3 linked regions of the Homo sapiens genome follow. The protein of the gene in region 2 interacts with the protein of the main gene of each other region in a biochemical or structural test. Each region holds a gene or a part of one and is shown on either strand. Other genes may lie near its edges. The genes, in order: H3-4, EP300 and RELA.

Evidence for each region.
Region 1: of the proteins of EP300 (region 2) and H3-4, one has a biochemical effect on the other in vitro, tested with the Homo sapiens proteins (5 studies listed by BioGRID).
Region 3: the proteins of EP300 (region 2) and RELA form a complex in vitro, tested with the Homo sapiens proteins (6 studies listed by BioGRID, with this or other methods).

What each region holds. Positions count from the first base shown.
Region 1 is NC_000001.11:228,424,139-228,426,892, forward strand, and holds H3-4 (histone H3.1t), read right to left. Parts: upstream 1,223-2,754; 5' UTR 1,188-1,222; coding exon 777-1,187; 3' UTR 707-776; downstream 1-706. UniProt on the Homo sapiens protein: Core component of nucleosome. Nucleosomes wrap and compact DNA into chromatin, limiting DNA accessibility to the cellular machineries which require DNA as a template.
Region 2 is NC_000022.11:41,090,328-41,093,927, reverse strand, and holds the start of EP300 (histone acetyltransferase p300), read right to left. Parts: upstream 1,337-3,600; 5' UTR 924-1,336; coding exon 830-923; intron 1-829. UniProt on the Homo sapiens protein: Functions as a histone acetyltransferase and regulates transcription via chromatin remodeling. Acetylates all four core histones in nucleosomes. Histone acetylation gives an epigenetic tag for transcriptional activation.
Region 3 is NC_000011.10:65,656,195-65,660,018, forward strand, and holds part of RELA (transcription factor p65), read right to left. Parts: intron 3,604-3,824; coding exon 3,472-3,603; intron 2,629-3,471; coding exon 2,524-2,628; intron 2,306-2,523; coding exon 2,093-2,305; intron 1-2,092. UniProt on the Homo sapiens protein: NF-kappa-B is a pleiotropic transcription factor present in almost all cell types and is the endpoint of a series of signal transduction events that are initiated by a vast array of stimuli related to many biological processes such as inflammation, immunity, differentiation, cell growth, tumorigenesis and apoptosis.

The sequences.
Region 1 (2,754 bases), on a different chromosome or scaffold from region 2:
GATTACAGGTATGCGCCACCAAACCCGGCTAATTTTAGAGATGGGGTTTCACCATGTTGGCCAGGCTGGTCTGGAACTCCTGACCTCAGGTGATACACCCGCCTCGGCCTCCCAAAGTGCTGGGATTACAGGCGTAAGCTGCTATGCTGGTGAAGTAGCTGGACTTCTAACTTAAAATAGGCCAAGATAATACATACTACTTGCTGGCCTTAACAGGAGATGGGCTGTCAAGGCAGAAGACTAGCTGGACTGGTAACCTCACTGGAAACAAGCTGCGTGTACACACACACACACACACGCAGGACTTCTAACCTAATTTGAAAGAGGCTGAGCTGAGAACACACAAGACCAGCCAGCCTTCCAACCTAACTGTAGATAGGCTGAGTTGACACAACTAGCTGGGGTTGCTTACCTAACTGGAGATAGACCAATTAGGCTACCCTCAACACCCCGTCCCCAAAACAGACCAACCATGATTCTTATCTAAACGGATAGGCCAAGTTAGCCCCACACACTACTAGCTGGATTTGTGACTGGAGACAGGCTGAGAGGTAACGCGTGTGAGTAGCTGGCCTCCTAACTGGACAGGGTGAACACAGGATTCACCAGCCTCCCACCCTAATCAGAAGTAGGTAAGCCAGCACAGGCCAGCGGAAGGAACCCCCCGAAACCCAAGAGACTAGCTTGCTACAGCAACTCTTCGACCAGGTGGGTGGCTCTTAAAAGAGCCTTTGGGGTGAACGTTGCGCAACCTCTCAGGTGGCGAGATAGCCCTCCTAGGCCCGCTCCCCGCGGATACGGCGTGCCAGCTGGATGTCCTTAGGCATGATGGTGACCCGTTTGGCATGGATGACACACAGGTTGGTGTCCTCAAACAGCCCCACCAGGTAAGACTCGCACGCCTCCTGCAGCGCCATCACGGCCGAGCTCTGGAAGCGCAGGTCGGTCTTAAAGTCCTGAGCGATCTCGCGCATCAGCCGCTGGAAGGGCAACTTGCGGATTAGCAGCTCAGTGGACTTCTGGTAGCGGCGGATCTCGCGAAGCGCCACCGTGCCGGGCCGGTAGCGGTGCGGCTTCTTCACGCCGCCAGTGGCAGGTGCGCTCTTGCGAGCCACCTTGGTGGCCAGCTGCTTGCGCGGCGCCTTGCCACCCGTTGACTTGCGCGCAGTCTGCTTGGTTCGGGCCATGAATCCGAAACTGTTGGCCCCGCGGTGTCCTCTGCCCAGACCTCAGCGGATTGCTCGCTTTTATAGAGCTTGCCGCGTTCCCATTGGCTGGCCTCAGGTGGCGTGATGGCCCACTGCTCTCTGATTGGCCCACAGGGAACTCCACTCGGGCGCCTCTCCCTTATATTCATGCCTGTTGGTCGTGGCCACCAGAGCTGGCACCAGCATTGTGAAGGGTTGATGCGGGTAGGCCGCGGTGGTGGGGATCATCTCTCTCCAGCACAAGCTTCCTCATGTCTTCTCAGCGCTCCTCTTCTCCCTTCCCCATGACTTGGGTGGCAAGAGCCTTCCAGAAGCCAGCACATGGCATTCCACTTTTTTAAAAAATTAATTTATTTTTTTATTTTTTGAGATGGAGTTTCACTCTTGTTGCCCAGGCTGGAGTGCAATAGCGTGATCTCTGCTTACTGCAACCTCCACCTCCCAGGTTCAAGCGATTCTCCTGCCTCAGCCTCCCGAGTAACTGGAATTACAGGGATTACAGGTGTCCGCCACCATGCCTGGCTAATTTTTTGTGTTTTTAATAGAGATGGGGTTTCACCATATTGGCCAGGCTGGTCTCGAACTCCTGACCTCAGGTGATCCACCCGCCTCGGCCTCCCAAAGTGCTGGGATTACAGGCATGAGCCACCAGGCCCAGCTGGCATTTCACTTTTTTTTTTTTTTTTTTGAGACGGAGTCTCTCTCTGTCGCCCAGGCTGGAGTGCAGTGGCGCAATCCCAGCTCACTGCAAGCTCCGCCTCCCGGGTTCACGCCATTCTCCTGCCTCAGCCTACAGAGTAGCTGGGACTACAGGTGCCCGCCATCATGCCTGGCTAATTTTGTTTTGTATTTTTAGTAGAGACGGGGTTTCACCATGTTAGCCAGGATGGTCTCGATCTCCTGACCTCGTGATCCGCCCGCCTCGGCCTCCCAAAGTGTTGGGATTACAGGCGTGAGCCAGCGTGCCCGGCCGGCATTCCACTTTTACACAGTGACAAAGCTCTGGGATGCAGCCAGAGTTAAAGGAATCTCCCACTTTTTATGACCTGCAAAGAACTCCCTTACCTGTACGGCTTAGATGAGCCTTAGGATTCTGAAGAAGGTAAAGATGTGCCTTTCTGGCATATTGTCTATTTTGAGATAAAGGCACTTAAAAAAAAAAAAGAAGAAGCAGGTGTAGGAAGATCATTCTGAATTTCTTGTTGTTTCTTAAATACAAGAGATGAAATTCCCATATGAAAGATGTTCTCCTTATAGTAAAAGCAAGGGAACGTTCTTATCATCAAGGACGGGAGGTGGAAGCTTCCAAATCTCCTCCAACTCTCAAGTTGAAATTTGATCCCTAAAGTTGGAGCCCAGGGAGGGGGGGGCCAGTGGGAGGTGTGTGGGTCCTGGGGTGTCACCCTCTGAATAGAGTCCTGCCCTCCTTTAGGGTGAGTTTTCACTCTGTTGGTTCCCTGAAGAGCTGGTGTTGAAAAGAGCCTGGCACCCCTCTCCCCTCTCTCTCTGGCGTCCTCTCTCGCGGCAGCCCTGTGACCTCTGCACA
Region 2 (3,600 bases):
CAATCAGTTCACGTTTGTAGTTCATGATTGGAACTCTTTCAACTTCTAACCTTGATTTCCAGGTACGTAACTCCACAAAATTGTTTATCTTATTTCCCCTAAAATGAGAAAGTGACTGCAAACTGCAAAGAACATGCCCCTGTTCTCCCAACCTAAAAACCCAGAGTTTCAGACATTTTGGTCTCACACCAAAGAACTGGGAGATGTGAAATGAACTGCGCTCCATATTGATTCTTAAAGCAAATAAGAAGAAAAAGGAAAAAAAAGCTAAGAATGGTAGGTAAGATAAAAGAATTGTTAAACTTCACCTCTAACCTGAAATCTTGGACCTCGCACACACAAAATCAAGATTTTTTTACACCCTATTCCTCAACAGAAAATATTCTGCAAAGGAGAGAAAATTTCGAAGAGTGGAAAGTAGAGGAAACACAGTAAGTACAGTAAAGAGAAAGGATTCGAAATTCATTTGCCAAGAACAAAAAAAATGAAACTTAAATTGCATAGGAGCTCTTACACACAAATGCATTGGCATTTCCCAAATTAAATTGCATGAGAGCAACAATACAGGCCATTTCTATATAGCACCCACTTACGAGCTCTAATTCCAGAACACACACCGATATGACATAGTGTTGCAATCAATGTATTAGGAGGCAAAGAAAATGGTTGGGCTACTGGACGTCTTCGACCAGCTCATTCAAATACCTTTAAAATTAATTAAGGGGCAGGGAACTAGAGAGAGAGGAAGAAAAAAAAAATGGAAGAATAAAGGCGCACCGAGTAGAAAAGATTAAAGGGAACGTGGAAGGCCGGGGCTGCCGAAACTAACCTGTGCCATCGCTGGCGGACGCCGAGAGGGCCGGAGATGAGAGTTTAGGCCGCTTGGCTGAAGGCGGCCCCGGTTCCACCACATTCTCGGCCATTTTTAATTCTTTCGGAGATACAAGCGAGGAAAACCAGAATCCTCAGGAAATCTCTTCTTCGGCCCGGGGTCCCCGCGCCGCACCCAGGGGTGGGCTGGGGGGCTCCGACGGCACCCGAGGGGGTGGGGGAAGTTCCTTTTTCTCTTCGCCGGGTCGCAGTGGCTGGAGAGGGATGCGGACTCGATAGAAAAGGTAAGGGCAAGTGCGAGGGGCCGGGCCTGGGCCCAAGCCCGGAGGAGGGCACAAGAGCACAAATTCGCCGAGCGCGTCCGCTGCGGCGAATTCCCGAGAACTCGCGGCTCTAGAGGCGCAGTCCCCGGCCCGCCACGGCCGGCCCCTGCCCAGCCGAGGTCTCTCGGAGCTCCGCCGCCGCCATCAACCTCTTCCTCCTCGGCGCTGTCCTCCTCCTTCTCATCGCCACAAGGAGGCGGGGGCGAAAAGGGGGGAGAGGAGGAGGCGACAAGAGACACTCACCTCCTCCCGGTGCCCCCTCCCGGGCCTGCGCCCCCACCCTCCGAACCCTCCTCCTGCCGCCGCGCTCCGCGCCGCCGCCGCCGCACCGGCCCCTAATGGCCGCAGAGAACTCGCCCGAGCCGAGAGCCAGGCTGGCGCCGCCGCCTCACATCGCGCGGCGGCCGGCGGAGGCGCGGCAAGGACGCCGGGAGCGGAGCTGGCCGGACCAGAGGGCCGAGGGGGCCGGGCCGAGCAGCGCCGCCCGCACGCCCGCGCCGACGCGGAGCCCACCGAGGAGGCCCCGCTCCGGCGGCGGCGCAGGCGGCCCCTCCTCGCGCCGCGCTCCCCTCCTTCGCCTTCCTTTCCCGCGGAAAATAAATAAATACGGCCGCTGCTACGGCCCCCACCGCCGGCGGCCAGGTGCTGGGAGCGCCCGCCCCCCGGGGCTCCGTTCGGGGCCGCCCGCGGCGGCGGGAGAAGACGCCGCGGGGCGCGGGGTTATGTAATGGTCCCCCCTAGGCGTCGACGCCGGCCCGGCTGCTGGACCGCGGTGGGGGTGTGTGCGGACGGGAGGGGGCTGGGGGTCGCCTCAGCCCGTGCGCCCCGGGCCCCCTGCCACTGTCTCGGCCCCTGCCGCCTCTCTCCGACCCGACTCCCCTCCGCACTCTCTGGCTCCCGCAGTTAGCACTCAGCCCGGCGTCCTGCTTGCCCACTCTCGCCCGCTCTCTCTCGCCCTCTCTCCCCCCCAGCCTAGCACACAAACAAGATGGCGGCTGTTGTTTCTTCCCTCTGCCGAATCCTCCTTACAGGCTAGCGGTAGCGGCGGCGGCCGGAAATGAGCCAAGGGGGGGTGGAAAAGGGGAGTGGCCGGGCCTCCGGAGGGGGGCGGGGCCTAGGCCCGAGCCGCTCACACAATGGGGGAAGTGGAGCCGGGGGCGGGGCCTGTCCCAATCACGGGATCCGCCCTAGGCCCCAACGCGGTTAGCGCTTCCGCAAACTCCCCCGGCGTCACCCTGTGGCTCCCTTTAAAGGGGAGGATTTTAAGAGTGGGGAGGATTTTAAGGGGGGAGGGGCGGGGGCGGACTCAGAATCTATTTTCAGTCGGTGGATAGTTACGAGGGAAGGTTCCTGCCTTTGGTCTCTGCGTAAGGGACCAGTGGGAACCGGGACGACGGAACCCCGGAGCTGCTCCGAGGAAGGCGCCAAGTCGCCACTCAGGTGGCCAAATGGGAGCGCCCGTAGGGCGGCCCTGCTCTTCGGCCCTTGGGTGGCGGGTCCCCCAAAACCCCGGTCGAATTCACCAGGCAGGGTGTACCCACTGCCGGCTGTTCCGGGCCAGATACCCAGTGCGTCCTCACTTCTCCATTGCCCTCCCAAAGGGAGCAGTTCACATCCAAAAAGCACGTTGATTACGAGTTGTTTTCATTTTCTCTGAATTTTCCTTTTCCTTTTTATGTATTATTTATTTATTTATTTTACAACGAGCATTATTACTCTGACCAGAAAACAAAATCACAGCAGTGGAAAGATGTTTCGGCACCAGACCCAAATTCATTTCTTGCCCTCCACGTGTGTCCATACGCCCTTACCAGGTAGCACTCTCACCGCAGAAGCCTTCAAGTATTTTCCTAAACATGGCTGGGACCTGAAGACATTTCTAGGGTTTGTCTTTTTTTTTTTTCTCGTCCGCTCCCAATAGAACAAGTTAGTAAAAGACCACGTCTAGCCATTGCCTTATCTAATGTAATTATGGGAAAAACAAAAATGTGGTAAAGGTAATGTAAGGATGGAAAAAAGCAAAAATGTAATGGTGAGAGGAAATGCTGGAATATAAAGTCTAGTGTGTGGGACTCCACAGTTTTGCAGCTGAGGTCGGAGACGTGCTTTCAGGTTCCTACACATCACCCTGTGTTTGGCCATGGGTAAATTGGTACTGGAGGAGGTGGCAGGGGTGTAAGTGACCCCGAAAGAAACCCCGAAACCAGTATCTACTGATACGGTTAAAAGCTTTTTCTCGGCCAGGCACGGTGGCTCACGCCTGTAATCCCAGCACTTTGTGAGGCCGAGGCCAGTGGATCACCTGAGGTCAGGAGTTCGAGACAAGCCTGGCCAACATGGTGAAACCCCGTTTCTACTAAAAATACAAAACTTGTCCGGGTGTGGTGGTGCACGCCTGTAATCCTAGCTACTTGGGAGGCTGAGGTAGGAGAATCTCTTAAACCCG
Region 3 (3,824 bases), on a different chromosome or scaffold from region 2:
GAGACCTGGGGGGCCCCAGCCTCCAGCTCACACCTTCCTGCACTGCTCACATCCTGGCTCATTGTCAGCCTCCACCCAGGCCTGGCGAGAATTTCTTGGCACTCTGGGGCAGCTGAGGCACAACTGCCTTAAGACTTCAGCAGAGACTCTTATTCTTATCTCTAATGGTTTCATATTTTAGTCAGAGCTTTCAGAACTGTCTTTCTAATTACAGTGGTATTTCAGTAGCTCCAAAGCACTTCAATTCCATCAATTCAAAGACAACCTCATCATCCCTCAAAAACTAGGTTCTTTCTCCTGCATTCCCTGACCATCCGCCATCTGCCCTGTCACCAAAGCTAGAAACCTTGGAATGATTATCTTCTTTTCTCTCACTCCCCGCCAGTAACTTGACATATATTTATCAAGCACCTACTATGTGCCAGCCTCCCTTCTAGACACTGGGGATGTGGCCGTGAGTATGCACACAAGGTGTCTGCTCCCAAAAAGTTGGCATCCTAGTGAAAAAGTGAGAGGGACACAATCATATATACAAACCAGAAAATCTCGGCCAGGCGTGGTGGCTCACGCCTGTAATCCCAGCACTTTGGGAGGTCGAGGCGGGTGGATCACGAGGTCAAGAGATCGAGACCACCCTGGCCAACATGGTGAAAACCCCGTCTCTACTAAAAATACAAAAAATTAGCCGGATGTGGTGGCGGGCGCCTGTAGTCCCAGCTACTCGGGAGGCTGAGGCAGGGAGAATCACTTGAACCCGGGAGGTGGAGGTTGCAGTGAGCCGAGATTGCACCACTGCACTCCAGCCTGGGCGACAAGAGTGAGACTCTGTCTCAAACAAACAAACAAAACCAAACCAGAAAATCTCAAGTGACGGTGGTCCAGGGACGATATGGTGATGTAACAATACTGGAAGTGAGGTCAGGACAGTCTAAATGTAGAGGGAAGGGCTAATTTAGAGGTCAGGGAAGGACTGGCATGAGCCACTTGCATTAAAACCTTGGGCATTCCAAGCAGAGGCAACAGCTAGACACAGGTCCTGAGGTGAGACTGAGCTTGGTCTGTAAGACGCAAAACGGCTGCAGGGCTGAAGGGTAACTGAGGACAGTGGTGGAGATGTGATCTTGCTCTGCTATTCCTTCTGTAAGGTTTGTGCCGCATCTTCTCTTCCTGGACTACAGCAACATTTCCAGAATGGCCTCCCTGCTTTGAGTCTGTCTGTCTCTGATCTTCTACACGTGGCCTCCTGAGTCAACTTCCAAATCTGCTCCTGTCACCTCTCTGCTTAGAGGCCTTCAGCTTAACCAGGCCCTCCAATCTCTGAGCCTGCTCACTGCCCAACATCAGCTCAAACCACGAAGGTGGCCCTGAATAGGCCGTGCAGTTGCCAACACCCCTTCCCTTCCAGGTGCTGGGCCACCTGCCTGGAGAACACACTTCTGTGTCTTTCTCCAGCTTCAATGCCACCTTCTCCATGCAGCTGTCTCCAGCTCCCCGGAGGCCACTGTGCCCCCGTGCTTCTCTGCGCACACCTCCATTTCACATGTCATTCCGTGACTTAAGGATCTGTTTTGCACATTTGTCTTCCTCAAGTGACTGAGACTCTGAAGGGCAGGGAGCATGTCTTACTCATTTTTTGTATTCACAATACCTGGCACAGGCCCTGGTACCAAGTGGACACTCAAACCTCGACCAAAATGTGGCTGGGCTGTATGGTAGTGACAAGACAACCAGTGTGGCAAAAGGATCCTGAAGCCAGATGGCCTGGGTTCCAACGCTGACTCTGCTAGACTCTGCTACTTACTAGCCACGTGAACCCAGGCAAGTTGGACACTATCTCCTACTTCAAAAGGGTCATGAGATTAAAATCAGGTAATCCAGTGAAGTGCCTGGAATAGGGGCAGATGTGTAGTACTAGCTCAATGTCTGAGGTATCATTATTATTAAATGAGGCAAGAAATGGATTCCAGTTTCTTGGATCCCAAGCTCTGACTCCAGCTTCTGGCCCTCAACCACAGCCCCAGACATGCAGTCTTGGCCTCTCTCTCACGGCACAGAGCCCAGCTGCCCTGATGCTGCCACCCCAGCTGTGTACCTGTATCTGGCAGGTACTGGAATTCCATGGGCTCACTGAGCTCCCGGTCGGAAGGCCGCCGCAGCTGCATGGAGACACGCACAGGAGCCTGCAGGCTGGGGTCTGCGTAGGGAGGGGTCCGGAACACAATGGCCACTTGTCGGTGCACATCAGCTTGCGAAAAGGAGCCTCGGGCCTCCCAGCCTGGTCCCGTGAAATACACCTCAATGTCCTCTGCAGGAGATGCGGTGGCAGTGTGGGTCAGTGTGTCTAACCCTCCATGGTCTCCCCCTCAACTTCTGATGCTTGTCTTCTGATACATCACCCTTCGGCCCACCTGAGGCCCCCGAGGCACAGGAGGAAGTATCCAAAGCCAGTTACCTGACACTCCACTTCTCTGCTCAGCTTCACCCCTTGCTCCCAAGAGCCCACCCCTGCCTCCTGATGTATACCTTTCTGCACCTTGTCACACAGTAGGAAGATCTCATCCCCACCGAGGCAGCTGCCAGAGTTTCGGTTCACTCGGCAGATCTTGAGCTCGGCAGTGTTGGGGGCACCTGAGGCAGTGAAAACAAGGGAGGATGACCTGAGCCACGAGAGGTCCCCAGGGTGGCCTGCAGGAGATGCAACTTCCCTGCCCAGCCCAGAGTCAAGGTTGCCCAGAGCTTGCCACCTACACCTTTGTAGCCAAAGTCAGACCTTCTTATTAGCTCCTCACCCCAACCGATTCAACAAGTATTTGCCTACTGTGCACTCAACACTGATCTAAGCAAGAATACGACCACACACAAAACCCAAACCTCTCTGCTCTCCCGGAGCTTATAGTCCAGTGGGTGCCAATCTGATCACACTCTTTCTCCACCTGACCAAAGCAATCTTTAAGGCCAGTCCATACCCACCTTGGCAATGAGCCCTTCCCTCCTGACCCCCAGTTTATCCTGGTTTCCCATCCTTGGGGCTCCAGATTCGTTTTATTTCCATTCATCCTGCTGGTTACTTAACTAAAGACTGCAGCTGATCAGTCAGCCCAATTCATCTGTGGGCTTCCATCACTGAATCATCATTCTCGAACACTATCTTGTTCCTGGGAGTTCATTTCCTAGAGTCATTATCGCAGTTGTGGGCACACCACCTTCTCATCACACAATACTGAAAATGCCCATCTCCCATCAGACTCTCTGCTAGACTTCCTGCCAGGCCAGAGCTACACCTCAAGGACAGCTCTGGGTCTTCTTTGCCCTCTCTCCCCAGCCAACAAAGAGCTGGGCAGAGAAGAGTAGACAAATACGCAAGATGATTGAATGAAGCCAGAGCGCCTCTTGCAGGCCACACTCACCCCAACCCCCTTCCTCCTATTCAGGCCCACCCTCTCCCCTTCCTGCGTCTCCCTCGCTACTCACGATTGTCAAAGATGGGATGAGAAAGGACAGGCGGCAGGCGGAGGGGCCTGCCTGATGGGTCCCGCACTGTCACCTGGAAGCAGAGCCGCACAGCATTCAGGTCGTAGTCCCCACGCTGCTCTTCTATAGGAACTGCCAAGAAAACAGGCGATCAGGAGAGCAGGGGAAGTGGGGATATAGGTGCTATCAGTGGGGGCAGGGAGCTCTGCGCTGGGAGGGCCGCTGGTGCGTGTGTGAAACACAAGTCCTAGAGGAGGCAGAACCCAGCACTGACTCCACTGTGGCCTGAATGTCATGTCCCCTCCTGGGACTCAGTTTCCCAGTGGTAAAGTGGGAGAGTACTGAATGGGCAC